Linked DNA regions of Homo sapiens. The protein of the gene in region 3 interacts with the protein of the main gene of each other region in a pairwise test. Each region holds a gene or a part of one and is shown on either strand. Other genes may lie near its edges. The genes, in order: ANXA1, RNF216, RIPK1, NUMBL, TRIM38, USP4 and CDC42BPB.

Region 1 (3,500 bases), on a different chromosome or scaffold from region 3:
ATAAACTATCACTGGCCTATATCTTGGCCATATGAAAAATATATAAACACTTATTTTTATAAACTATGTTTTATCAAACAAAAATAATCATCATTATTACCACTGACACATGGATCTAACATAAACATTGGTAATTAAATAAGAATTGCAGAAAATGAGGTTTAAAAGCTTCCTTATTTTTATTCTTTTATTAAATTCCTCTGAAAATGATATGCAAAAGCTATTGTATTCTCCATGCTTGGTATGAGAATCAAGCAGAAAGATCTTCTATATGCCATATATTGCATTGGGAAAGCCAAAAAGCCAGCAGCTCAGGGAAATGAGAGTAGGAAAATGGTAAGAGACTTGCAATTACCCTCTTTTCAGTGTTGAGCACATCATTTAAATGAGATGCTTCACTGGAGAGATAAAATAAGCTAAGACTAGTCTTTTATTCTGTGAATTTAACTAGAGATAAAGTGAGTCTCTTATGTTCATAACGATAAAGTTAAGGTTTCCAACAGAGAATTATAAGCACCTAATTCTTTACTTTTTCAAGGACAAATGAAAAACATTTTGTTAGGAGATTTTTTTGTTATTATATATTCTTTTCAAAAAAAATGACCTTGGGACATTTTTATAAAATACATTCCAGAATAATAGAAAAGTGTTTTTCAGAAATTTTTAAAAATTCAATGCTCTGAATTGAGGTTTCCATTATAATCGTATGTGGCCATTTATCCTAGAGGAACATTTTCTATTAAAACGCAAGCTTGATGCGGATTGGGACACCATCTCCCTTGTCAGCAACCTAGCAACTCAAGCGTTGCCTGGTAACAGCATTTAATAGACATGTGCCAAACAATAAAGAAACATTTTGATATGTGGAGATTCCAAAGCTGCCATAATTACCATAGACAGTCAATTTTAAGAAAGTATATTAGATTTCCTTTTCAAATAAGGCGTTTGGACTGTTGGACATTACAACTTACCCTCTCTGTAGACCCTGTTAATGTCTCTGATTTCTTTGTTAGTTCTTGATGCCAAAATCTCAATTAGAGTATCTTCATCAGTTCCAAGGCCCTAAATTTGAAGAGAAGAAAAGGATAAATGTAGAAAAAAATCTTCATGCAAGAGGATCAATGAGTTTTTGGTGTTCCAAAATTTGTTTGACTCTGTCATTTAGTAAATTTCACCCACAACATTTAATAATTACAATAAGCTCTATTACATTGCCCTAAAACAAAACAAGTTTATCATCAATATTTTGGGTAAAAATAAAAATGCAAATATATGACTCATATAGTGACATGACATGGAAGGTGTTAGTGCCAACATTTCTGTTTTCATTTATATATTAATTCCTTCATTGAGGTATTAATTTATTTATTCTTCAAACTCCCACTGATTGACAGGTACTATACTAGATTTTGAAAATAACATAAGCATAAGTGACTTGCCCAATACATCCTCTTGAGGAAAGGAGTTTGCTCAAATTGGGCGATTTACCTTCATGGCAGCACGAAGTTCATCAGCATCAAATTGCGCTGGAGTTTTTAGCAGAGCTAAAACAACCTCCTCAAGGTGACCTGTAAGGGCTTTCTTCAGTGTTTCATCCAGGGGCTACAAAAAAAAAGATTAGAATCAGGACTTCCAATAAGTAACATGCTAGGTTAAAAAATGTGATATTACCTGACTTTAGGTCATCGTACAACTCATCCCTAAACCCAACCATCTTTTAGAGCTTCTTCCCTTCACATACAAAGTGTACCAAATATTTTGAAACATTATCTTACCCTTCCAGATCTAGAGGGATTAAAATAAAATTTACTGAATTCATCAATAACTTCTTAAAGCATAGGGTTAGTAATCTTATACACAGGGGAGAAATCACAAAGATCAAAACACAGAGGACTGTGTGCTAACAGAAAACAGAAGTAAAATTACTTTTAAAATAATATATTCATGTTTCCAATCTTTGAGGTTTGTACTTCTCAAATAACAAGCAGTATAATCAGATACTGAAATTATATAGTTTTCTAATTTCATTGCTTTAGAAAACTACTCATATTTGGTATAAAAGACATAAGGCTTATTTTTAAAGTAGAATTATATATAAAATTTAGGCATTAAACAGTTCAGTTTAAATATTAGTACATTTCAATCAGACCATATTCTTTATTGACAGCAGCAATCTCGATGTTTACGTTCAAATTAAAAATTTGTCCCCAGAGCACCACATCTGCAAACAATATACACCAAGATGACTAATGTATAAAAATAGGAAATTTGATAAAATTGATTAAATTGCAACAAAGTGGATAAACACTGCAATCCCAATCATAGATGTAATGAGAAAACAGTGGTTAGAACCTTAAAGAACTAGGTAACTGTGCTTCCGAATCCATGGTTAAGTATAACTATGCTGAAATTAAATATCTAAATTTACCACTCTAACTTACCTTTCCTGTTTCCTGGAGATATGCTGCTTTGATCTGTTGACGCTGTGCATTGTTTCGCTTAGTTAGAATGTCAATGATGGTTGCTTCATCCACACCTGGAAATAAAGGGCCAACAGCCTTTAACACCAATTTTCTTCATCATCAATTGACATAAAATAATTCATTACTGAGATGCTCCAAAAGAACTTCTTAACAAATTAAGAAATATAAATTATATATCAGCCTAAAAAATCGATGCTATACTACATATCAAGGAAGCACTTGGGAGAATGACATTTCATTCGAGTGAGAAAGGAAGAGACAATTAACTTTTCCTGGCCCTCAGTGTTGCAGTGTTTGATACTAGTTGCAACTCTATATGTGAACAGAGCTTTTAATTTCAGCATGGAATTTCTGCTAGAAATGAGCCAGTAATATCTGCTGTAACAATAGAGATTCCACTGATGTGAACACAATTTCCTCAGTGTTAAGTAAATAATTACATCTTCGTTTGGCAAAGAAATGTTTTTATCTTCAAAATGAAACAGATTCTTTCCATTGCACATGTCTGTTTTTTGACAGTCATTCAAATAGCCATTCTGAAATGTCCAGGAGGGAACTGTTTTGAGGAAACACGTTACCTTTAACCATTATGGCCTTATGCAAGGCAGCGACATCCGAGGATGGATTGAAGGTAGGATAGGGGCTCACCGCTGATCCGGGACCACCTTTGGATGACTTCACAGTTTGCTAAGAATGAGAGAGAAATAAATTAATGGCCATTTACTTATATTCGTTTTTATTTCAATATTGTAATCATAATTTTATTATCACTCTACTTACAACATATTCCTGCTCTTCATTTTCAATAAACCAGGCCTGCTTGAGGAATTCTGATACCATTGCCATTTTTGAAAAAGTGTCTGGAAAGAAAACAGTTAGATGCTTTTACAAAACAAATGCACCACACACAACCTCTCCTTCCTCACCTCTTACATACATAAGAGTTAGCATTAGAGAGTAGCCTTGCGCTTACTTTCCAGGATCAATTACACTTAGGAGCATAACAAAATGTAAGAC
Region 2 (3,500 bases), on a different chromosome or scaffold from region 3:
GTGCCAAGATATGTAGACAGAAGTTTGAGCTACAGTCTGGGCGCGGTGGCTCACGCCTGTAGTCCCAGCACTTTGGGAGGCTGAGGTGGGTGGATCATTTGAGGTCAGGAGTTGGAGACCAGCCTGGCCAACATGGCAAAACCTCGTCTCTACTAAAAATAAGCTGGAATGTGGTGGTGCACGCCTGTAATCCAGGCTACTCAGGAGGCTGAGGCATGAGAATTGCTTGAACTCAGGAGGCGGAGGTTGTAGTGAGCCAAGATTGCACCACTGTACTCCAGCCTGGGCGACAGAGCGAGAATCCACCTCAAAAAAAAAAAAAGAAGTTTGAGGGGCAGATTTTTCCATTAATAGAATTACTGGTTACTCAATGGTTCTGAGGCGTAAAAAATAAAAATAAATAAGTAAAATTATTGATAATCTTATTTCTCAGCAAGAAATGTCAAAAAACCTGGAAGATAAACACAATTTTCATCATCTGATGCAAGTGCCCAGGTAGTTTTCACAATGGGGAAGAGTTGGCAGATGGCACGCTCTGCCTGAGAACGAACCTGACAAGCTCGTCGGCGTAGGCTGCCGCAACCTCCTCCTCGGCTTTTCGCTCATAGTACTTATACAGGATGGTCTGGGGGAGCACCTTCTCCAGCTCACTGGTTGGGAACGAACACGTGCAGCTGCCTTCCATGCAGCTGAGCTCCAACTAGAAAAAGGCGAAAAGGCAAAGAAAAAAAAATCAATACCATTTATAGAAAAATAAAAAGCGTCAGTGGTTAAAAACATAGATCCTGAGACAACATAGCAAGGATCTCTCTGCCTGTTCATCTCTGAGAAATCACACTTAAATCATGGAAACCATGAAACAAAAATCCAGTACATCTTTGATATCACTAAAGGACCTCTATTAGCCCAAATCACAATCCACAAAGACTGAAAGTGGCGGAAGGGCAAATGGCTTAGCAGACCACACACAGAAGCCCATAGCTTAGGGTCTGAAAAGGAGATGCTGGGGAGAAGTTGTTCCCCTCTACAGATATTAGAAAGCTGGAGAACCTCTGGAAAGCAGAGCTGAGTGGTGGGGAGGGGCAGGGACTCAAAGTAATAAACTGAAAACAGGGACATGGGTGGAGCCTCTAGTTCCTACCCGCTTCAGAAGGAATTGGCTGACTCTGAGAGAAATGAGGAAGATCTCCTGAACAGCTGGACCACACGGCTCTGGACTGGAAACCACTCATAGAGGAGAGCAGAGCTGAGGGGTGGCCTGAAGTCAGAGTCTGAAATGGAGTCTGCATAATGAACAGAGAACTCTCCAGACCTTTCCTCCCCCTCAGTTTCAGAATGTTGGAAAATGGGCTCACACCCACCAGGCAGGAGGCAGACTGAATCACCCCAGGTAAGAGACTTCAGAGCCATTCAGGTTCATAATATAAAAGCTAACTGGCTCCTATGCACCTAGAGTCAAACTCACTGGTCTATAAGCCCCACTACTCACACAGCTTTCAAACAGCTCTTTAACATGAACAAAAAGTGTCAGACATGAGGAATGCTTCCCACATGAAAGACAAACACCAAAGAAAACAAATGGAAAAAGACGACATTTTAAAAATAACTAGCTAAAATTTATGAGGCATTTACCATGTGTCAAACAATAAGTTCATTAAACTCATCACCTCATTTAGCTTTCAAAACAATGCTATGATTATTTCCATTTTACAGAGGAAGAAACAGTGGCTTAAGGAATTTAAATTGCTCAAGATCACAGGGCTAGTATGGCTGATGGGGGCATGGCCCAATGCATTCTGCTTGACTCCAAAGGTCACGCTCTTTGAAAAAACATAAACTTTATTTATTTATTTTTCTGAGACAGAGTCTCGCCCTGTCACCAAGGCTGGAGTGCAGTGGTGCGATCTCAGCTCACTAAGCCTCCCGAGTAGCTGGATTACAGGCACCCACCACCACACCTGGCTAATTTTTGTATTTTTAGCAGAGATGGGGTTTCACCATGTTGGCCAGGCTAGTCTCGAACTCCTAATCTTGTGATCCACCCAACTTAGCCTCCCAAAGTGCTGGGATTACAGGCATAAGCCACAGCGCCTGGCCTATTTTTCTTTTTTAGAGATGGAGTTTCACTCTTGTTGCCCAGGCTGGAGTGCAATGGCACGATCTCAACTCACCACAACCTCTGCCTCCCAGATTCAACCAATTCTCCTGCCTCAGCCTCCCCAGTAGCTGAGATTATAGGCATGCGCCACCAGGTCTGGCTAATCTTGTATTTTTAGTAGAGATGGGGTTTCTCCATGTTGGTCAGGCTGGTCTTGAACTCCTGACCTCAGGTGATCCGCCTACCTCGGCCTCCCAAAGTGCTGGGATTACAGGCGTGAGCCACCCGGGCAAAAAGTCATCTTCTTAATCACTGTGTTAGTTTTCTATTGCTGCTGGAACAAAATACCACAAACTCGGTGGTGTAAAACAATGTAAAATTCCCATACTGTGTTTGTTATGCTGGTGTCCAGAGAAACTCACTTTGGAGAGAGAAATATGATCTTGTGTAAAGTAAGTTATGTTATTTTAATATATATTTAATCCAATAGGCTGCAAGGTTCTCTCTTTCTGAGGTAACCTTCCCTCTGAATACAAATAAGATGATGAACGAAGGAGGTGCTCCTCTGCGGCTAGGCGTGGGAGTGTGGAAGAATTCTACTGTGCCCTGAAAAGAAATCTGCTGTGCTCAGAGAACCCACATAATCACATACATCAGGTAATGTACACATAAGCATACCAGCAGAACTCCACCTCACCCTCAAAGAGGCACTTACACTTATCTATCAACATGGTCTCCTTAGACTCCAGGAATGTGTCCTATATACATGGGACATATTACACAGTTCTTACCTTTCCAGATCCAAAGACTGCCTCTTGGGCATATCTGATGAGACACTCTTTGCAGAACAAGTGAGCATCTGCGCACTGCGTCAGCTCCTCGAATGGAAATTCCCCATAGCAGCAGCGACACTCAATCAGCTGGCCATCCTGCAGGCAGTCAAGAAACACACATGAAATGTCCTGCACTTAAGGAGAGGGGGAGCCTTGTCTCCCATCCTCATCTCTCTGCCACCCCCCACACAAATTCTGAGGTAAAGCAACCCATTTTAGGGGCCATAAAACAATGATATGCTGTTTCGTGCTATATAAATCTAGCTCAAGATACTAACACAGTATTAATCCATACCTAAAACAGCGAGGTTTTCGTGTTTTTTTTCTGGTATTCTTTAGAGTAATTCTTTATATAAAGTTATCATATTCAATCCCATGGTGCAAAGGGAACTAGAACATCTGTACTCAGATGCTAATGTGATTATAAACAGCAAGGATAAGGAGTATGAGAGATGTTACCCAAAAAACTTTCAAAAGTTGAATTTTGTTCTTGTCATAAGGAGTGTGAATGGGTCTATCGAGGTCTGCGCTTTATTTTAAGGGACTATTGAAGCTATAACTAAAGCAGC
Region 3 (3,500 bases):
ACTGATTTTTAAAATACAGACAGAAGTAAACAATCGAATACAAATATAAAACAAAATTTCAAAGTAGAGGTTTTTGATGCACTGCTGATTTTTTTTTTTTTTTTTTTTTTTTTTTTTTTTTTTTTTTTTTTTTAAGGCAGAGTTTCGCTCTTGTTGCCCAGGCTGGAGTGCGATGGCACAATCTCGGCTCACCACAACCTCCACCTCCCCGGTTCAGGCGATTCTCCTGCCCCAGCCTCCCGAGTAGCTGGAATTACAGGCATGCACCACCACGCCCGGCTGATTTTGTATTTTCAGTAGAGATGGGGTTTCTCCATGTTGGTCAGGCTGGTCTCGAACTCCCGACCTCAGGTGATCCGCCCACCTCAGCCTCCCAAAGTGCTGAGATAACAGGCGTGGGCCACTGCACCCGGCCGCTGATCTCACTCTTAGGCCATATCTGAACTCTAAGGATTTTCCGCACACACCTTCACATTCCCCTGCATTTCCAGAGGAGGAGAGTCTTGGTGACACAGATTTCCTGGAGAACATTATGACACCAATGGCCCATTCCAGGATGAAAAGGGCAACCCTTGAATGTTTCTAAATGTTTCTAACAGAGGAAAAAACACAGTCTAGGAAAGAGGTCTTCTCATCTACCCCATTCAACTCCACTCCTCCCCCAAAAGATATGAGTTATCCTGACAGTTATCTCCTGATCCCATCAAGCCTGCAGCCTTCCTCTCAATCACCGGTAGAGCCTTTCGGCACCATCATCAACAGTTATAAGCTGAGCTAGGTCTTCCTTTAGCTTCTCCAATGTACGAGAATGGATTTACATTGGAGAATTAAAACTAAAATCACCCAACTTTCTGGAAGCCTACCGATGATGGTTTACCTTAATGTGGAAGTCATTATCAACAAGGATATTTTCAGGCTTCAGGTCCTTGTGTATCACGCCTTTTCCATGTAAGTAGCACATTCCTTCAATGATTTCCAAAATTATCCTTCCTTTTACAGAAAGCGGAGTACTCATCTAAAACAAGTGATATTAAGTCTATGAAATGGAAAGGTTATCAAATAGGCCAAAGCAACTGTTTCATGAAAGGGTGGTGGGATCTGAGCCTGAGGAGAAGGTTACCAGGTTTCCTTCCAGCAGGTGCACCACAGTACTGCTGTCACTGGGAAACAAGAAAGATTTCATTCGGGGGGGGGCAGAGGGTATTCGTGTTGTATTTTGTTAGTGTAAAAACAAAAATCCCACAATAATTTGGTAATGCATAAAATACTATAAAATTAAGCTCCTTGAGAACAAAAATATATATTATTTAGGACTGTATCTTTAGAACCTAGGATTGTACCTGGAATGCTTGTTGAATGAATGGATGAATAAATATACGAGCAAGCAGTTTCTGTGGGATACTCACACGACATCATACTAAGTTTACATTAAGGACATGAACAATGCCATGCAAATGTCGCGTGTAAAATAACATTAAGAGAAAAAAGAATACAAGGGAACATGTTCACACTGATTACAATCATAGAAAAATCTGAGATAAACATGATGTTAAAACTACGCTTAAGTGAATTAATATCTATTTGATGACCTGGTAGCAGATACTTCAGGCTTCTGTAGAGTCTCAGGTCACTGGTTCTTATAATTGTATTCTTGTTATGTGAGCATCAATACTAACAGAAACAATTCCAGTTTCTATTATAGTGGTTAAATTACAGTTTTGCTTAACAATAAAAAATCAGTATACAAACAAGATGTTTCCTAAAAATGTATATGTATTTTGGTCGTTGGTTAACAGGAAAAAAATTTTAATGATAGAAGTGAGATTCCCCCTCAAACCATATTTATGACATAACGTAGCAGAGCTACACTGTTAATAGCTTGATCACCACCATACAGAAAGTAGCAGAAAAGATGTTTTCTCTTCTTCCTTGGTATACCTTTGGACTTAGGAAAAACTTCTGAGTAAGCAAAGTTGGTCCCCCTCTCTCCTCTCTTTCTGCTTCTCTCTCAGGTCCTCCTGATGCCCTGACTGAGTCCAAACAGGTGCACCTGAACTTTCCCTCATCTTGCACAATGCCTCATGTCCCCAATGATTTCTCTCTCATCTCAGAAGCTAAGCAGGGTTGGGCCTGGTTAGTACTTGGATGGGAGACCAAAGACTTATTTCCCAATCAAAATGTTTACTTCAAACAGCTGATCTTCTCTAGTTCTGGGGTGGAGAGCAATCTGATCAAACTATAATACCATGCGTATAAGTGATCACCTCTTCTCCTTCCCAAGGGTATTTTTGTGAGATGTCTGTTGGCTTGGCAATTGTGGGGTGGGAGAAGAAAGTGGAAAAGTGGGAGTATTTGCCATAAAGGCAGCCATATCCCGCCACCCCTCCCCATACCCTGTGCAATCTATGCTCTAGCCAAACCCAGGAATTTACAGTTCCCCAAATTTGGCAGTCTCTACATGGTATTCTCTCTGCCTAGAACACTTGTTCTCTAATTCTCTGCTTCAAAACGTCTACATGTCCTTCACATTGGAAGCCTTTTCTGTCTATTCCAGGCTGAGTGGGTGCCTCTCATGTGTACTCCCTCAGCAATGAGTATGTCTATCAAAACACCATCAGCTGGGAACGGTGGCTCATGCCTGTAATCCCAGAACTTCGGGAGGCCAAGGCAGTCGGATCACGAGGTCAGGAGTTCGAGACCAGCCTGACCAACATGGTGAAAACTTGTCTCTACTAAAAATTAAAAAAATAGCCAGGCATGGTGGTAGGCGCCTGTAATCCCAGCTACTCAAGAGGCTGAGGCAGGAGAGTTGCTTGAACCAGGGAGGTGGAGGTTGCAGTGAGCCGAGATTGCACCATTGCACTCCAGCCTGGGCGACAGAGCGAGACTCCTCTAAAAAAAAAAATACCACCACACAGCTGGGTGCAGTGGCTCATGCCCATAGTCCCAGCTACTCAGGAGGCTGAGGTGAGAGGATCATTTAAGGCCAGGAGTTCAAGCCTGCAGTGCACTATGATTGTGCCACTGCACTCCAGCCTGGGCAACACAGTGAGACCTTGTTCTCTTACAAAAGAAAAAAAAAAAACCCCATCACACCATACCACTTATTTAGCTATCTGCCTCCTTTTACTCTCCTACGTCATATTAGCTATTGATTCATGAGCAACTAGCGCAAGGCCTTCATCTTAACAGGCACATAAGCTTTTAAAAATGTTTTCAAATCATTTGACTTTGGTAAACAATTTTTATTTTTGTTTTAAATCCTATCCAGTGTTGTTGCCAATAATTTCTATATTTAATTTAAAATAAAACTTTGTTGAATGGTATCAAAGTGCAACCACTAATATTCTATCTGCTCTCACGGTCATTTATAGTGTATATCCTTTCATTAATCCATATTTAATGTCATCCCATCATGCATATACTCTACATCAGATGATGTCTGCATCATGAAGACAGGGCTTGTCTCTGAACTGTAGATTGCAGAGCAGCGGACAGGT
Region 4 (3,500 bases), on a different chromosome or scaffold from region 3:
TCCGCCTCCCGGGTTCAAGCGATTCTCCTGTCTCAGCCTCCCCAGTAGCTGGGACTACAGGCGCCCGCCACCACGCGAGGCTAATTTGTTGTATTTCTAGTAGAGCCGGGGTTTCACCGTGATAGCCAGGACTGCCGGCCTCACGCTTTTTAACACCAACTTCAAACGACTTGGGCTGGTGTCCCAGCCAGGCCGCGCACCCGCACAGCACAGCACAGCGGCCCCCGTCCCCCTCGCCCCGCCGCACCCTGCCGCGCCCACTCACCCTGACCGGGAAGCTGCACGTGCCCTTCCGCACCGCGTCCTCGTCTGCCTGCCACTGGTGCGGGCGCGACGCCTCGGGCACGTAGGCTGGCTTCCTCCGCCGCAGGCTCTGCCGTAACTTGTTCATGGTGCCCGCCCCGTCTGGTGACACAGGACAGTGATGTGGGTCAAGGGTGGGGGTCAGAAGGTATGGAGCTCAACGGGGAGGGACCAGTGCTCAGGGAGCATGGGGTCAGATAACAAGATAACTGGAAGCGGGGTTACAGGGTCAGTTGGCAGCGCACATGGGATCAGCAGCTCAAGTCAGGGGACAGTGAGGAAAGGAGCCAACAGAAGCCAGGGGAGTGCGAAAGTTGGGCACTGGGGATTCAGAACCATGGGGCTAAGGGGCTGGAGGTCTGGGGTGGGGGGTATGGGGCACAGGCTTCAGGGCATTGGAGGGCTTCTTGTCCATGTGGTGGATGCTTCCTCATTCCCAGGGCCGTGAGGACACAAAGGGTGGGAAATCAGACGTAGGAGGGCATGGGGGCTAGAGGGCATAGAAGTCAGGGGCCGCACGGTCAGGGGTTTTAGGGGTATGAGAGTCAGGCAGTGGGGTGATCAGAGGGCAGCAGAGGAGTTGGGAATTGCATGGGTCAGGGGTGCAGGAGTCAGGTGCATGGGGTATGGGGGATGGTGGCTTGTCTCTGGAACTCTGAGACACAGCCATTCTGTGACAACTGTGTCTAGTCCCCAGGCAAGGCTTCTGGGGCCTTGCACTGATGACTGTCAGAGGCAGGGCTGTGGGTGTGTGGAGTGGGTGTGGAGGTGGCCAGCCACTAGGACAGTCTTCACTGATCAGCCATCCTGACAGTCCCAGGACTGGGAGCACCAACAGCAGAGGGGGATGTGTGTGTGTGTGTGTGTGTAAGCAAGTGTGCAATGGTATGTTCTGGAACGCTGTCTATGAGGGGCTCTATATCTGAGCAGGCAAGTAATGTCTGTGAGTGTGTTTCTGAAGGCTGTCTGGAAGAACGCATGTCTGAGAATGGTGTAGGATAGTGTGCATCTGTGAATGCTGTCCGTGAGGGATGCATCCAAAAGTGTGGTTGTTGTCTGTGAGTCTGAGGCCCTGAAGGTTGTTGCTGAAGGGCATCGATGTCTGAGAGTGGTTGTGAGTGTGTGTCTGCTGTCTATATCCGAGAGTGCCGTTGTTGTCTATGAGAACTTGTGGCTCAGTGCCTGTTGCCTGTGAGGGTGTGTCTGTGTTTGAGATGAGGCTGTCGTCTTTCAAAGGGTGTGTCCATGGCTGTTATCCATGTAGCTATGTCTCTGTGTGAAGGTGTGGCTATTGTCTGTGATGACATTGCCTCGGAGAGTGCATCTGAGGGATCTACAAGACTGTCTGTGTCCAAGAGTGCAGCTGTTGGCGGTGAGCCTGTGTGACTGTGGCTGTTGCCTTAGAGTGTGGGTGTGTGGGTATTGCACAGAGGGTGTATCTGTGTGCAGTGGTGCATCCGTTAGGGTGTGTGGGAACATGAGGTTGTCTTTGAGAGTGTTTTCATGAGGGTTATTTGTAAGGGTGTGACTGTTGCCTGAGAGAGTGCTGGGTGTTCTTTGTGAGACTGTGTGCATGTTTGTACACAACCGTAGCTCCCTGTGAGAGCCTGGGCCCGCGGGTGCTGTCTGTGAAAGTGTGGCTGTCGTCTGTAGAAATGTGGGTCTGTGTGTGTTGTCAGACTGTGCAAGAGTGTGTCTCTTTTTTTTTTTTTTGAGACGAAATTTTGCTCTTGTTGCGAATGAAGGCTGGAGTGCAATGGCATGATCTCAGCTCACAGCAACCTCTGCCTCCCAGGTTCAAGCGATTCTCCTGCCTCAGCCTCCCAAGTAGCTGGGATTACAGGCATGTGCCACCACCCCTGGCTAATTTTGTATTTTTAGTACAGACAGAGTTTCTCCATGTTGGTCAGGCTGGTCTCGAACTCCTGACCTCCTGACCTCAGGTGATCCTCCCGCCTCAGCCTCCCAAAGTGCTGGGATTATAGGCATTGAGCCACCACGCCCGGCCAAGAGTGTGTCTCTTGAGAGTGTGTATCTCAGAGTCTGTATCCAGCGAGCGTCTGTGGTCACCTGTGAATCTGGGTGTTGTCTAGGAATGTGTGTGTGTGTATATATGTGTGTACATTAGTGTGATGAACATCTACTTCAGCATGTGTTCAAGTGTGTCACTGCATTAGCAAGTGTGTGTGATCTGAAAGAGATCTGTGTGTGTGTGTGTGTCTCTAACCGTATATCTACAGATGTGAGTGTTTGTGACTCTGCACTTGAGGCTGTAAGGGTGTCAGGGTGTGGGTCTGTGCATGAGTGGGGCTCTGACAGTCGCTGAGGAAGATGCCTGAGGGTGTCCACTCATGAGTGTGATTAAGCCTGTGTGACCGCAGGGACAGCTCCTCTGGTCGTGTTAGGCAAGACCACATACCCATTCAGCCCTGCCCTGTCCCAGGCTGGTCGCTCACCTGGCTCCGTCCTGCAGGTTTCTGGGGGCCCCGGGGCCCCACAGGGGGCTGGGGGCAGGTGCCGCTCAGGCCTCCGGGGTCCGCCCTGCCCGAGTAGGGGAGGAGAAGGTGAGAAGTTTGTCTGGGTTGGGGCTCAGTCTGATACTTCACCCCGACTTTGGACTTCGGCCAGCCCCCTCCATCTTGGGCTCCCTGATGAGAGTCCTAGTTGTCCTAGCAACTGTTACCAGGGAGATCAGCCACCTGGTTCCAAGGGCCCAGGAAGGAGTAGGTATGTTTGGGGGGCATATGTTGGGGATGTGCTGGCCTCAGGAGAGCCTCACTGCCCAAGGGGATGCTGTGAGAGTGGCCTTGCCCTCCAGATGCATGTGCAGGGCTACACACATACGCAGCCAACTCATATCTACAGGTGTCCCTAGCATCTGGCCACAGCTTTACACACTTGGTTACACATAGACGCAATCACAGCTACACACCTCAGATCGCAGATACACAGAAACAGTCCCAAACCCAGAAAGCTGCCACTGTAAACATCTGGCCGCATATTCATGTTCGGACACACACAGTCTCTACTACAGACATTTGTCCACATACATGCAGCATGTCCTGGCCCACTCAGTTCCCACCGCAGACACCTGGTCACACCACCCACTGAAATTTGGTCACTTCCACATTCTCAGCCACATACAAAGAACGGGGCCCAGACAACCCACTAGAGCCGCACATGCGTGGCCACACCCA
Region 5 (3,500 bases), about 23 Mb from region 3:
CCAAGACACAGGGGAAGGCAGTAAATCTCCTGGAAGATGTGTCCTGATTCTCCTGGGTGTATCCACGAGTCACTTGTCTCCGATCCTCAGAGAGAATTAGTTCGTGATGAGCTGTATCTGGATCCAGAGTCACACTAACTGCAAAACAAAACAAAACAAACAAAAATAATTTTGTTGCTGTGAAGAACACAGGTTATTTTATTTTATTTTATTTTGAGATGGAGTGTTGCTGTCACCCAGGCTGGAGTGCACTGGCACTATCTCAACTCACTGCAACCTCCACCTCCTGGATTCAGGCAATTCTCCTGCCTCAGCCTCCGGAGTAACTGCGACTACAGGTGCGCACCACCACAAGTGGCTAATTTTTTTAAATTTTCTGTAGAGATGGGGTTTCGCCATGTTGGCCAGGCTGGTCTCAAACTCCTGACCTGAAGTGTTCCACCCACCTCGGCCTCCCAAAGTGCTGGATTACACAGGTGTGAGCCACCATGCCCAGCCACAAGTTATTTTCAATAAAACCAGCCTGTGTTCAAACCCAACTATTGTTTCTTATAAACTGGGTGAGCTTAGGCAAATCATTTAACTTTCTGAGCCTCAGTTTGTTAACTATAAAGTGGAAATTACCGTATTTGTTGCAGAGAATGGTGGGTAGGATTGAATAAGCTTATGTTTGCTTAATGCTTGGTAAAATTCCTGGTACATGGTAACCACCTAATAAGTGGTAGTTGTTGGGGTGATCAGGCCCAACACCAGGCCGTGGGGGCTACAAAGTCCGGCGGGGTCAAAGGAATGAGAAAAGACAAGTTAAGAGTGCATAAAGTGGGTCCAGGGTGCCAGCACTAGATTGGAGGCTGCAAAGGCCCTAAGCTCTGGGAGCCCACACTATTTATTGGTGATCAAACAAAGAAGCAGGTGGTGAGGACGTGAGGGTAAACAGGTGAGGGCATGAGGACATGGGGGTAGAAAGGTAGTGGTGCATTAAGCGTAGCTGTGACAGTTTAGCATTTTCTTTGACACATGTAGAATATACTCTGCTGCTTGAGATAGTAGAGGACACGTTTATGAGTGAAAAGCAAGGAACCAACAAGTCTGTGCACTTTCCAGAGGCTATGAGGGGTTTTATGCCCTGAGCCCTGGGTTCCATCCAAGCCACAAGGGGTTTTATGCCCTAGGCTTAGATTTGTGGTGCGGCAGGGCAGCCTTCCACCATTTGGCACAGAGCTTGGTGTTCCAAAGGCCACGAGGGGTTTTGGACCCTGGACCCCGGACATCTTCCAAGACTCTTTTACATTATGACAGACAAGCCAGTCCTGCTTCAGCTCTTCTAACAACATGTAGTAATAATGATATCATCAACATCATCTTCGTCTTAATTATTCAAGGATGCCAAGGTACAGAACTAACCTGTTAATATGGTTACCATCCTGTCCAAAGTTCTTCTCCCATGCAGGACTTCCAGGAATCATGAGACAGTTGAGCAGAAAGATACCTTTTCCCTTCTCTACTGAATAACCACCAACATTGAGAATCAGAGAGGGAAAATGACTCAGCTAATGTCTTAGCTTGTTATTGGAAGACCCAGGTCTCATGACACATGCCTAGTCCCATGACTTTTAATTGTAAGCTCTTCTCTTTCCCCTCAGATAATGTTCCATAAGCATTAGTATGAGATAATAATACACTGAGGACCAATATACATGAAAAATATCAGACTAGAATCAAACAAGACAGAAAAAAGATCTGATAACCTAAAGTGAGATACTGAACAGTATGCAGTTTTAAAAATAAAAAATGGTAATAGGATGTTCTAACAAGAGAGTTAAGAAACCACTGTGCTACTGAGTTAAATGTTGATCAGTTGGTCTGTGACAATTAAGGAATTCAAGTATTCAGAAACACTTCCTGTGCTGGATGCTCTCTGTTTGTTCTTCCAAATAATCCCTCACTTTTCCCTGTCTTGCTCTGTGCCCAGGAAGGCTGACATGGACAGATTAACCAGGCTTTCCGCCCTCTGGCTTGGTTCAGCCAATGGGAAGCACCAGAGGAGACCATAGGGCACAAAGAAGCAGCCTTGGGAGTATTCAGTACCCCAGTCCCACGCTATGATTTGGAGGGTCTGCATTCCTCTGCCTCTGGGCACACTCTAGTATAGTTACAGCTCCCTACACCTGCCACTTGAGGCCCAGAGGAGGTGATGGCTCTCTAACTGTTCCTAGTTCTGGGTGCTTCCTGTTCCTTGTGGATTTCCCAACTCCTCACCTTTGTAAATACCCTCCTTTTTCAAACTCTATTCAGTTAGCTTTTATCAGCCTGACTCACAGAAGTTTGGGGTTTCAATTCATATTACCTGAATGACCCAGGAAAACCCATGTTGAGAAATTAAAATGTTTACGGGGTGGTAATACCACTTAAGAGAAAAAATATCAATTGGATTTTTAAAATTCCACCTATCTATTGGTGTGACACATCAACAAAAACATATAGAAAGATTGGAAGCTAAAAGATAGATAATATAGTCATATACTGTTATAGTATTATATCAAAAGATATTAAGTCAGAGCATTATTAAGAATGGAAGAAGGGCCAGGTGTGGTGGCTCATGCCTGTAATCCCAGCACTTTGGGAGGCCAAGGCAGGCGGATCACTTGAAGCCAGGAGTTCAAGACCAGCCTGCCCAACATGGCAAAACCCTGGCTCTACCAAAAATACAACAATTAGCTGGGCATTGTGGCACATGCCTGTAATCCCAGCTACTTGGGAGGCTGAAGCACAAGAATCACTTGAACCGGGGAGGCAGAGGTTGCAGTGAGCTGAGATTTCGCCACTACACTACAGCCTGGGTGACAGAGAGAGATTCTGTCTCAAAAAAAAAAAAAAAGAAAGAATGAAAGGAGTCACCTAAAAAAGATAACACAATTTTAAACATAAATGTACTACATTATTAGTGAATTCATGTTTAGAATTGTGTTAATATACAAAGCAAAAATTGTAGAATTATAGGAGAAATGGACAAATCTACAATCATCATGGGATGTTTTAACATTCTTCTTTCCATAATTGATAGATCAGGCAGACCAAAAGAAAGAAATAAGGGAAGATACGGAAGGTCTGAACAATCTAAGAAGCGCAATCTCATAGTCAATACATAAAGCTCAGCAATTGTTTAATAATAGTAAGCAGAGAATATGCAGTTTTCTCAGGTATAGATGGAACATGCACTAACTGAGTAAATACTAGGCAGAAAACAGTCTGAACAAGTTTCAATAAATCTGTATTACACAGATCATTTTCTCTAGCCTCAATATAAGATTATAAACCAATAATAAAAAGATGACTAAAAAGATTCTAAATATTAGGAAATGTAAACTACTAATAAGTCATTAGAAGATGTATAGAATGGAACAATAATAAAAAGTTATTTATAAAAATATACAATGAAGCTAAAGCAGAATTTTAAGGAAAATTTGTAGGCTTTAAATGCTTATCTTAGAAAAATTAAA
Region 6 (3,500 bases), on a different chromosome or scaffold from region 3:
CAACGTCTTCTAAATGTTCAAGTGAAAAGGAGAATTGCATGTCTCTCACTTCAAATCAAAGCTAGAAATGATTTGAGTTTGGTTAAGGAAGCCGAAATAGGTTGTAAGCTAGGCCTCTTGTGCCATATAGCTAGCCAAGTTGTGAATGTAAATGTAAACCTCCTGGACTTAAGTGATCCTTCCACCTCAGCCTCCTGAGTAGCTAGGACTACAGGTGCTTGCCAGCATTCCTGGCTCATTTTTGTATGTGTTTATTTTTTCTTTTTGTAGAGATGGAGTTTTGTCATGTTGCCTGGGAGATGGAGGAACCCAGGAAATGGTGGTTTCAGTGAGCTGAGATTGCGCCACTGCACTCCACTCCAGCTTGGGCGACAGAAGTGAGACTCCATCTCAAAAAAAAAAAAAAAAAGTGCTACTCTAGTGAACACATGAATTATAAGAGGCTGAAACAGCCTTATTATTGCTGATATGGAGAAAGTTTATTCATTTATTTTTTTTTTTGAGACAAGGTGCCATCTTGTCTCAAAAAAAAAAAAGGTAGCTACTGCTACCTCGTGCAGTAGCACAATCACACCTCACTACAACCTTGACCTTCCCAGGCTCAGGTGATCCTCCCATCTCAGCCTCCTGAGTAACTGGAACTACAGGCCCCACCACACTCGACTAATTATTGTATTTTTTGCAGAGATTTTTTGTGGGTTTTGTCATGTTGTTCAGGTTGATCTTGAATTCCTGGGCTCAAGCAATCCTCCCGCCTTGACGTCCCAGAGTGCTGGGATTACAGGTGTGAGTCACTGTGCCCAGGCTAAACAACAGGTTTTATTTTATTTTATTTTTATTTATTATTATTATTTTTTTGAGACAGAGTCTCACCATGGGGTTTCACCATGTTGGCCAGGCTGGTCTCAAACTCCTGACCTTAAGTGATCCGCCTGCCTCGGCCTCTCAAAGTGCTGGGATTACAAGCATGAGCTACTGTGCCTGGCCTAAACAACAGATTTTAAATGTAGACAAAACACCCTTCTATTGGGAAGATGCCATCTACCTCTTTGCTGCTAGAGGGGAAAAGTCAGTGCCTGGGTTCAGAGCCTTTTTTTTTTTTGAGACAGGGTCTTGCCCTGTCACCCAGGCTGTAGTGTGTGATCACAGCTCACTGCAGCCTTAACCTCCTGGGCTCAAGTGATCCTCCCACCTCAGCCTCCTGAGTAGCTAGGACTACAGTTGCTTGCCACCATGCCTGGCTGATTTTTATATGTTTGTTTGTTTGTTTGTTTTGTAAGACAGAGTCTCGCTCTGTCGTCTAGGCTGAAGTGCAATGGCACAATCTTGGCTCACTGCAACCTCCACCTCCCAGTTTCAAGTGATTCTCCTGCCTCAGCCTCCCAAGTAGCTGGGATTACAGGTACCTGCCACCACACCCAGCTAATTTTTTTTTGTATTTTTAGTAAAGACGGGATTTCAGCACGTTGGCCAGCCTGGTCTCGAACTCCTGACCTCAGGTGGTCCACCCGCCTTGACCTCCCAAAGTGCTGGAATTACAGGTGTGAGCCACTGTGCCCAGCTTTGTATTTTTTTTTTTTTTTTGTAGAGATGGGATTTTGCCGTGTTGCCCGGGCTGGTCTCCAACTCCTGGGCTCAAGTGATCTGTCTGCCTTGACTTCTCAAAGTGCTGGGATTATAGGCATGAGCCACTCTGTCCGGCCAGATTCAGAGCCTTGAAGGACAGGCTGACTCTCTTCTTAAGGGATACTGCAGATGGTGACTTTAGTTTGAAGCTAGTGCTCATTTATCATTCCAAAAATCCCAAGGCCCTCAAGAATTATGCTAAATCTGCTCTGCCTGTGCCCTACACATGCAACAACAAAGCCTGCATGATAGCATATTTATTTACAGCATGGTATACCGAATATTTTTGTTTTTATTTTATTTTTCTGGGACAGAATCTCGCTGTGTCGCCCAGGCTGGAATGCAGTGGTGCAATCTCGGCTTACTGCAACCTCTGCTTCCCGGGTTCAAGTTATTCTCATGGCTCAGCCTCCCAAGTAGCTGAGATTACAGACATGCACCACCAGTTCTGGCTAATTTTTGTACTTTTAGTAGAGATGGGGTTTTGCTATTTTGGCCAGGCTGGTCTCAAACTCCTGGCCTCAAGTGATCCACCCGCCTTGACCTCCCTAAGTGCTGGGATTACAGGCATGAGCCACCACAACAAGTTTACCGATTTTTTTTTTTTTGAGTCGGAGTTTTGCTCTTTTGCCCAGGCTGGAGTGCAATGGTGCGATCTTGGCTCACCACAACCTCTGCCTCCCAGGTTCAAGCGATTCTCCTGCCTCAGCCTCCTGAGTAGCTGGGATTATAGGCGTGCGCCACCACGCCCAGCTAATTTTGTTTTTTTAGTAGAGACGGGGTTTCTCCTTGTTGGTCAGGCTGGTCTCGAACTCTCGACCTCAGGTAACTGCCCACCACGGCCTCCCCAAGTGCTGGGAGTACAGGTGTGAGCCACCACGCCCGGCCTCCCAATATTTTTTTTTTTTTTGAGACGGAGTCTTGCTCTGTCACCCAGACTGGAGTGCAGTGGCGCGATCTCGGCTCACTGCAAGCTCCGCCTCCCGGGTTCACACGATTCTCCTGCCTCAGCCTCCTGAGTAGCTGGGATCACAGGCGCCTGGTGCCTGCCACCACACCCGGCTACTTTTTTTGTATTTTTAGTAGAGACGGGGTTTCACCATGTTGGCCAGGATGGTCTCAATCTCCTGATCTCGTGATCCACCCATCTCGGCCTCTCAAAGTGCTGGGATTACAGGTGGGAGCCACCGCGCCCGGCCTCCGGCCTCCAGCCTCCAGCCTCCCAATATTTTTAGCTCAGGGTTGAGACCTACTGCTCAGAAAAAGCACTGAGCTAATCTTATCAAAATGTTACTGCTGCCAGGTGCAGTGGCTTACGCCTGTTATCCCAGCACTTTGGGAGGCCAAGGTGGGCGGATCACGAGGTCAGGAGATTGAGACCATCCTGGCTAACATGGTGAAACCCTGTCTCTATTAAAAATACAAAAACAAAATTAACCGGGTGTGGTGGCGGGTGCCTGTAGTCCCAGCTCCTCGGGAGGCTGAGGCGGGAGAATAGCATGAACCCGAGAGGTGGAGCTTGCAGTGAGCCGAGATGGCGCCACTGCACTCCAGCCTGGGGGACACAGCGAGACTGTCTCAAAAAAAAAAAAGTTACTGCTCCATTGCAATGTACCTAGTTACCCAAGAGCTCTGATGGAGATGCATGAGGAGATTAATGTTGTTTCATGCCTACTAAAAACATCCGTTCTGCAGCCTGTGAGTCAAGAAGTAATTTCAACTTTTTTTGTTTGTTTGTTTGTTTGTTTGTTTGTTTTGAGACAGAGTCTCACTCTGTTGCCCAGGCTGGAGTGCAGTGGCTCAGTCTTGGCTCCCTGCAACCTCTCCCTCCCAGGTTCAAGCAATTCTCCTGCCTCCTCCTACCAGGTTCAAGT
Region 7 (3,500 bases), on a different chromosome or scaffold from region 3:
CACGGGTAGCCTTGCAATTCCAGCAACTTCGTGCAGGGGACAGAGGAAGTCAGGCTGCCACGGGGAACACCTGGCCGGGAGGGATGCAGTTTGTGGGGGCTGGTCCACTCATCAGTGGGGTGACAGTGGGCAAATCACCTGCGGAGTGTGTGTAAGTGGGAGTAACAAGACTGCCTACCCTGTTGGGCTGTGGGAGGGTCACAGGATTTAACAACAGAACAGTCTTACAGCAATTCCCAGTATAAAGAAAGTCAATTTAACTGAAACCTATTACCATTAATTTTTTAGCCCCAAACTAACAGGATTTGGGACTTGGTAATTCTGTTAGAGACACTGTCCCTTCCAGGTCCTCGCCTGCCTCATGGCACAGCAGAGCTGGCCTGGTTTTTATGAAACTGACGTTCATTATCGTATCCTCGTAAAACCAGATCTGCAAAGAGGAGACTCTCAGCAAATACTGACTGAATCACTGCTGTGTGAAAATGGCGTTCTCGTTACTGCTTGGAGTTAGGGAAAAATTTCAAGTGAGAATGCCATCTTCAACCTCTGTTTTAAAATATTCACGTTAGCTTGAAAGGAACAATCTTGAATTAGTGAATGGAGCGGCACGGAGGTGACTAAGCAGTGAGAGGGGCTCCTGTCAGACAGCGGTGTGAGTCTCGCTACCCAGCGTGGGGGCACAAGCACCCGCTGCCGTCAAAACACGGCTCGCACCGCACCACACCCCCCCGCGGCAGGCAAGGCCCTGCACCCTCGCGGCCACCTCAGTGCCAGAACGGCCTGCTATTCGGGGCTCCTGCAGGTGAACCCGACGTGCTGCCTCCTAAGGCTCCAGCAAACGCCGTGGCCCCGATTTTCCAGGCGAGGAGCATCGGAGCCCGTGAGGCTCAGGGCGGGCTCGAGGCCACACAGCCACTGCTCCTACCTGGAGTCAGACCCTGGCACCAAGTACCTTTCCAAGGTGAGGTTGGCGTCCTTGACCTTCCTGAGCTCCTCCTGGACAAGCTGCTTGGCCCGGATCTCCGCCTCCAGGGCCGACTGCAGCTCCAGCCGCGCGGACATGTCCAGCTTCTGGCTGCGGCGCACCTTCCACAGCGGGTCCTTGAGACACGGTCATGGCGTTAAAAATGCATTTTCAGTTATCCGCTTGTTAAACTAATGTTAACAAATAAGTTATCTTTGTCTAACCTTAAGCCATTACGGTCTCATTTAGATATTAACTCTAAATTATGGAGGTGCCTCAGGAGTTTTAGTTTTGATATTTTATGACTTTTTTTACTCTTCCTCAGAAATCTTCTAAAAAATAACTAAATAATTTACTTTATCTTTTAGAAGAATAAAAGTGATTCTGTAGTGCAATTTCTTTTCTTTTCTTTTCTTTTTTTTTTTGTTTGAGATGTAGTTTCGCTCTTGTTGCCTAGGCTGGAGTGCAATGGCGTGATCTCAGCTTACCGCGACCTCCGCCTCTTGGGTTCAAGCGATTTTCCTGTCTCAGCCTCTCCAGTAGCCAGTAGCTGGGATTACAGGTGCCGCACCACCATGCCTGGCTAATTTTTGTATTTTTAGTAGAGACAGGGTTTCACCACGTTGGCCAGGCTAGTCTCCAACTCCTGCTCTCGTGATCCACCCCCCTTGGCCTCCCAAAGTGCTGGGATTACAGGCATGAGCCGCTGCGCCTGGCCTCTGTAATGCAATTTCTATATGGGTCCACTGGACCCTGGACCCTTTTACAAACCTAAGGTACATTATAGGGTTCGGTTATCTTTTTCTCATAACTTGAAACGTTTTGCTATTTCACCATCCTGGGAATTATGTCATTACTCATTCCTACCTGTGATTAAAAAAAAAAAAAAAAAAAAAAGACTAAAATAATAAGGGAAGAATGACAGAGTGACCTAGGATGAAGCAACAGTGGAATAAGCCAGTTCACTAACATCATCCTCCTGTTTTCTTACTGAGTTGCCCAATGTATGACATCAACTTTCGAGAGGTATCAAAGAAGTCCAGAGATGCCATCTTGCTGTTTTTTCTTTTTTAAAACAAACTGAAAACCTTTCATTGAACACAATTGAGAATGCTTCATTTTCCATCTATAACAGTAAAGAGAAGAAAATGGACAGAGGAAGGCCAGGTGTGGGGGCTCATGCCTGTAATCCCAGCACTTTGGGAGGCCGAAGCGGGCAGATCACCTGAGGTCAGGGGTTTGAGACCAGCCTGGCCAACATGGTGGAAACCCGTCTCTACTAAAATACAAAAATGAGCCAGGTGTAGCGGCACACGCCTGTAATCCCAGCTACTCGGGGGGGCTGAGGCAGGAGAATCACTTGAAGCCGGGAGGCGGAGGTTGCAGTAAGCCGAGATCACGCCACTGCACTCTAGCCTGGGCAACAGAGTGAGACTGTCGCGGGAGGAAAAAAATAAAATACACACATCACTAAATGAACCAATGAAATTAATAAAAGCAAGCTCTCTGAGGGCAGAATCCAGTCTTAACTTGACACCACGGAGCTCAGTGCTCAGTAATTATTTGCTAAACGAATGAATGCTGTCGAGAGAAGCCATGATGATCTGAGAGCTGGCAAATGTTGGCGTTCCTTAAATTGGGGAACTGGTTACACAGAAGTCTCTTGCATCACTGTAATTCCCTAAATAGTACTTATATGTCACATTTATACTTAAAACCATTAGCGAATTATTCAGTAATAGAAATGCAGGCATTACACAAAACCTACCAGTGTTCTTGACCCCAGACTAGAACTCCTCAAAGCCTCGAGCTCTTCGGTCATCTTGGAAGCAAGAGCTTGAAGGTAACCCCGGGCATCTTTCTCGTCACTGACCCTGGAGGAGGGAACAGATGTTCTATCTCACGAAGCATGGCTATCAGGGAGAAGCCAAACAAGAAGGGGACGTTCCCGCCTTCCTCGGCACACAGTGACACAGTGTCACGTCAGCTAGAGTGCCCGCAGTGTACCCGTTGTATACACGGGATCTCATTGATGGATGCGTCGTTACATTGCACATGACTGCAGTTTAAAAAGACACCAAACTTCCAAGACTCAAGAATGAAAAAATTCTATTACTCCATAAATATATATACCTACTACGCACCCACAAAAATTAAAAATAAAAACTCTTTTTTTAATTACAACTTCACACCTTAGGAGCGGAGGGCCAGGTCCCAGCTCGCTCCAAGTCTCCCTGCTGCTTCTGCAGCCGCTTTGGGAGGGCTCTGCCTCCCCTGTCTCTGAGAACGCAAGGGGTGTGAACGGTTTGCCCCAAGTCCTTCAGTGGGTTGGTGGGGGCGTATCTCCACCTCTATTCCAACAGAACCACTGCCCCAGACATGAGAAGTTCTGGGGAACAGCAGTGAGACCTGCACCCCAGCCTGAGAGGCACGGCCTGGCGTGGAGCACAGGATCAGGCAGAAGAGGCGGGGCAGACCCCATGGACTGAGCAGGGAGCGGATTCACGGCCGCTAATGGGGCCGCGCACGTACCACT

Evidence for each region.
Region 1: the proteins of RIPK1 (region 3) and ANXA1 interact in binary tests that used the Homo sapiens proteins (3 or more experiments, as listed by UniProt).
Region 2: the proteins of RIPK1 (region 3) and RNF216 interact in a two-hybrid assay, tested with the Homo sapiens proteins (one study listed by BioGRID).
Region 4: the proteins of RIPK1 (region 3) and NUMBL interact in a two-hybrid assay, tested with the Homo sapiens proteins (one large-scale study listed by BioGRID and IntAct).
Region 5: the proteins of RIPK1 (region 3) and TRIM38 interact in a two-hybrid assay, tested with the Homo sapiens proteins (one study listed by IntAct).
Region 6: the proteins of RIPK1 (region 3) and USP4 interact in binary tests that used the Homo sapiens proteins (3 or more experiments, as listed by UniProt).
Region 7: the proteins of RIPK1 (region 3) and CDC42BPB interact in a two-hybrid assay, tested with the Homo sapiens proteins (one large-scale study listed by BioGRID and IntAct).

Annotation. Positions count from the first base shown.
Region 1 is NC_000009.12:73,158,365-73,161,864, reverse strand, and holds part of ANXA1 (annexin A1), read right to left. Parts: intron 3,344-3,500; coding exon of another isoform or gene 3,330-3,343; coding exon 3,264-3,329; intron 3,171-3,263; coding exon 3,062-3,170; intron 2,537-3,061; coding exon 2,442-2,536; intron 1,603-2,441; coding exon 1,489-1,602; intron 1,063-1,488; coding exon 972-1,062; intron 1-971. UniProt on the Homo sapiens protein: Plays important roles in the innate immune response as effector of glucocorticoid-mediated responses and regulator of the inflammatory process. Has anti-inflammatory activity.
Region 2 is NC_000007.14:5,712,164-5,715,663, forward strand, and holds part of RNF216 (E3 ubiquitin-protein ligase RNF216), read right to left. Parts: intron 3,028-3,500; coding exon 2,890-3,027; intron 701-2,889; coding exon 552-700; intron 1-551.
Region 3 is NC_000006.12:3,078,494-3,081,993, reverse strand, and holds part of RIPK1 (receptor-interacting serine/threonine-protein kinase 1), read right to left. Parts: intron 1,016-3,500; coding exon 878-1,015; intron 60-877; exon of another isoform or gene 1-59. UniProt on the Homo sapiens protein: Serine-threonine kinase which is a key regulator of TNF-mediated apoptosis, necroptosis and inflammatory pathways.
Region 4 is NC_000019.10:40,684,152-40,687,651, forward strand, and holds part of NUMBL (numb-like protein), read right to left. Parts: intron 2,845-3,500; coding exon 2,760-2,844; intron 406-2,759; coding exon 266-405; intron 1-265. UniProt on the Homo sapiens protein: Plays a role in the process of neurogenesis. Required throughout embryonic neurogenesis to maintain neural progenitor cells, also called radial glial cells (RGCs), by allowing their daughter cells to choose progenitor over neuronal cell fate.
Region 5 is NC_000006.12:25,979,802-25,983,301, reverse strand, and holds part of TRIM38 (E3 ubiquitin-protein ligase TRIM38), read right to left. Parts: intron 139-3,500; coding exon 1-138. UniProt on the Homo sapiens protein: E3 ubiquitin-protein and E3 SUMO-protein ligase that acts as a regulator of innate immunity. Acts as a negative regulator of type I interferon IFN-beta production by catalyzing 'Lys-48'-linked polyubiquitination of AZI2/NAP1, leading to its degradation.
Region 6 is NC_000003.12:49,330,054-49,333,553, reverse strand, and holds part of USP4 (ubiquitin carboxyl-terminal hydrolase 4), read left to right. Parts: intron 1-3,500.
Region 7 is NC_000014.9:102,963,550-102,967,049, forward strand, and holds part of CDC42BPB (serine/threonine-protein kinase MRCK beta), read right to left. Parts: coding exon 3,497-3,500; intron 2,839-3,496; coding exon 2,733-2,838; intron 1,102-2,732; coding exon 953-1,101; intron 1-952. UniProt on the Homo sapiens protein: Serine/threonine-protein kinase which is an important downstream effector of CDC42 and plays a role in the regulation of cytoskeleton reorganization and cell migration. Regulates actin cytoskeletal reorganization via phosphorylation of PPP1R12C and MYL9/MLC2.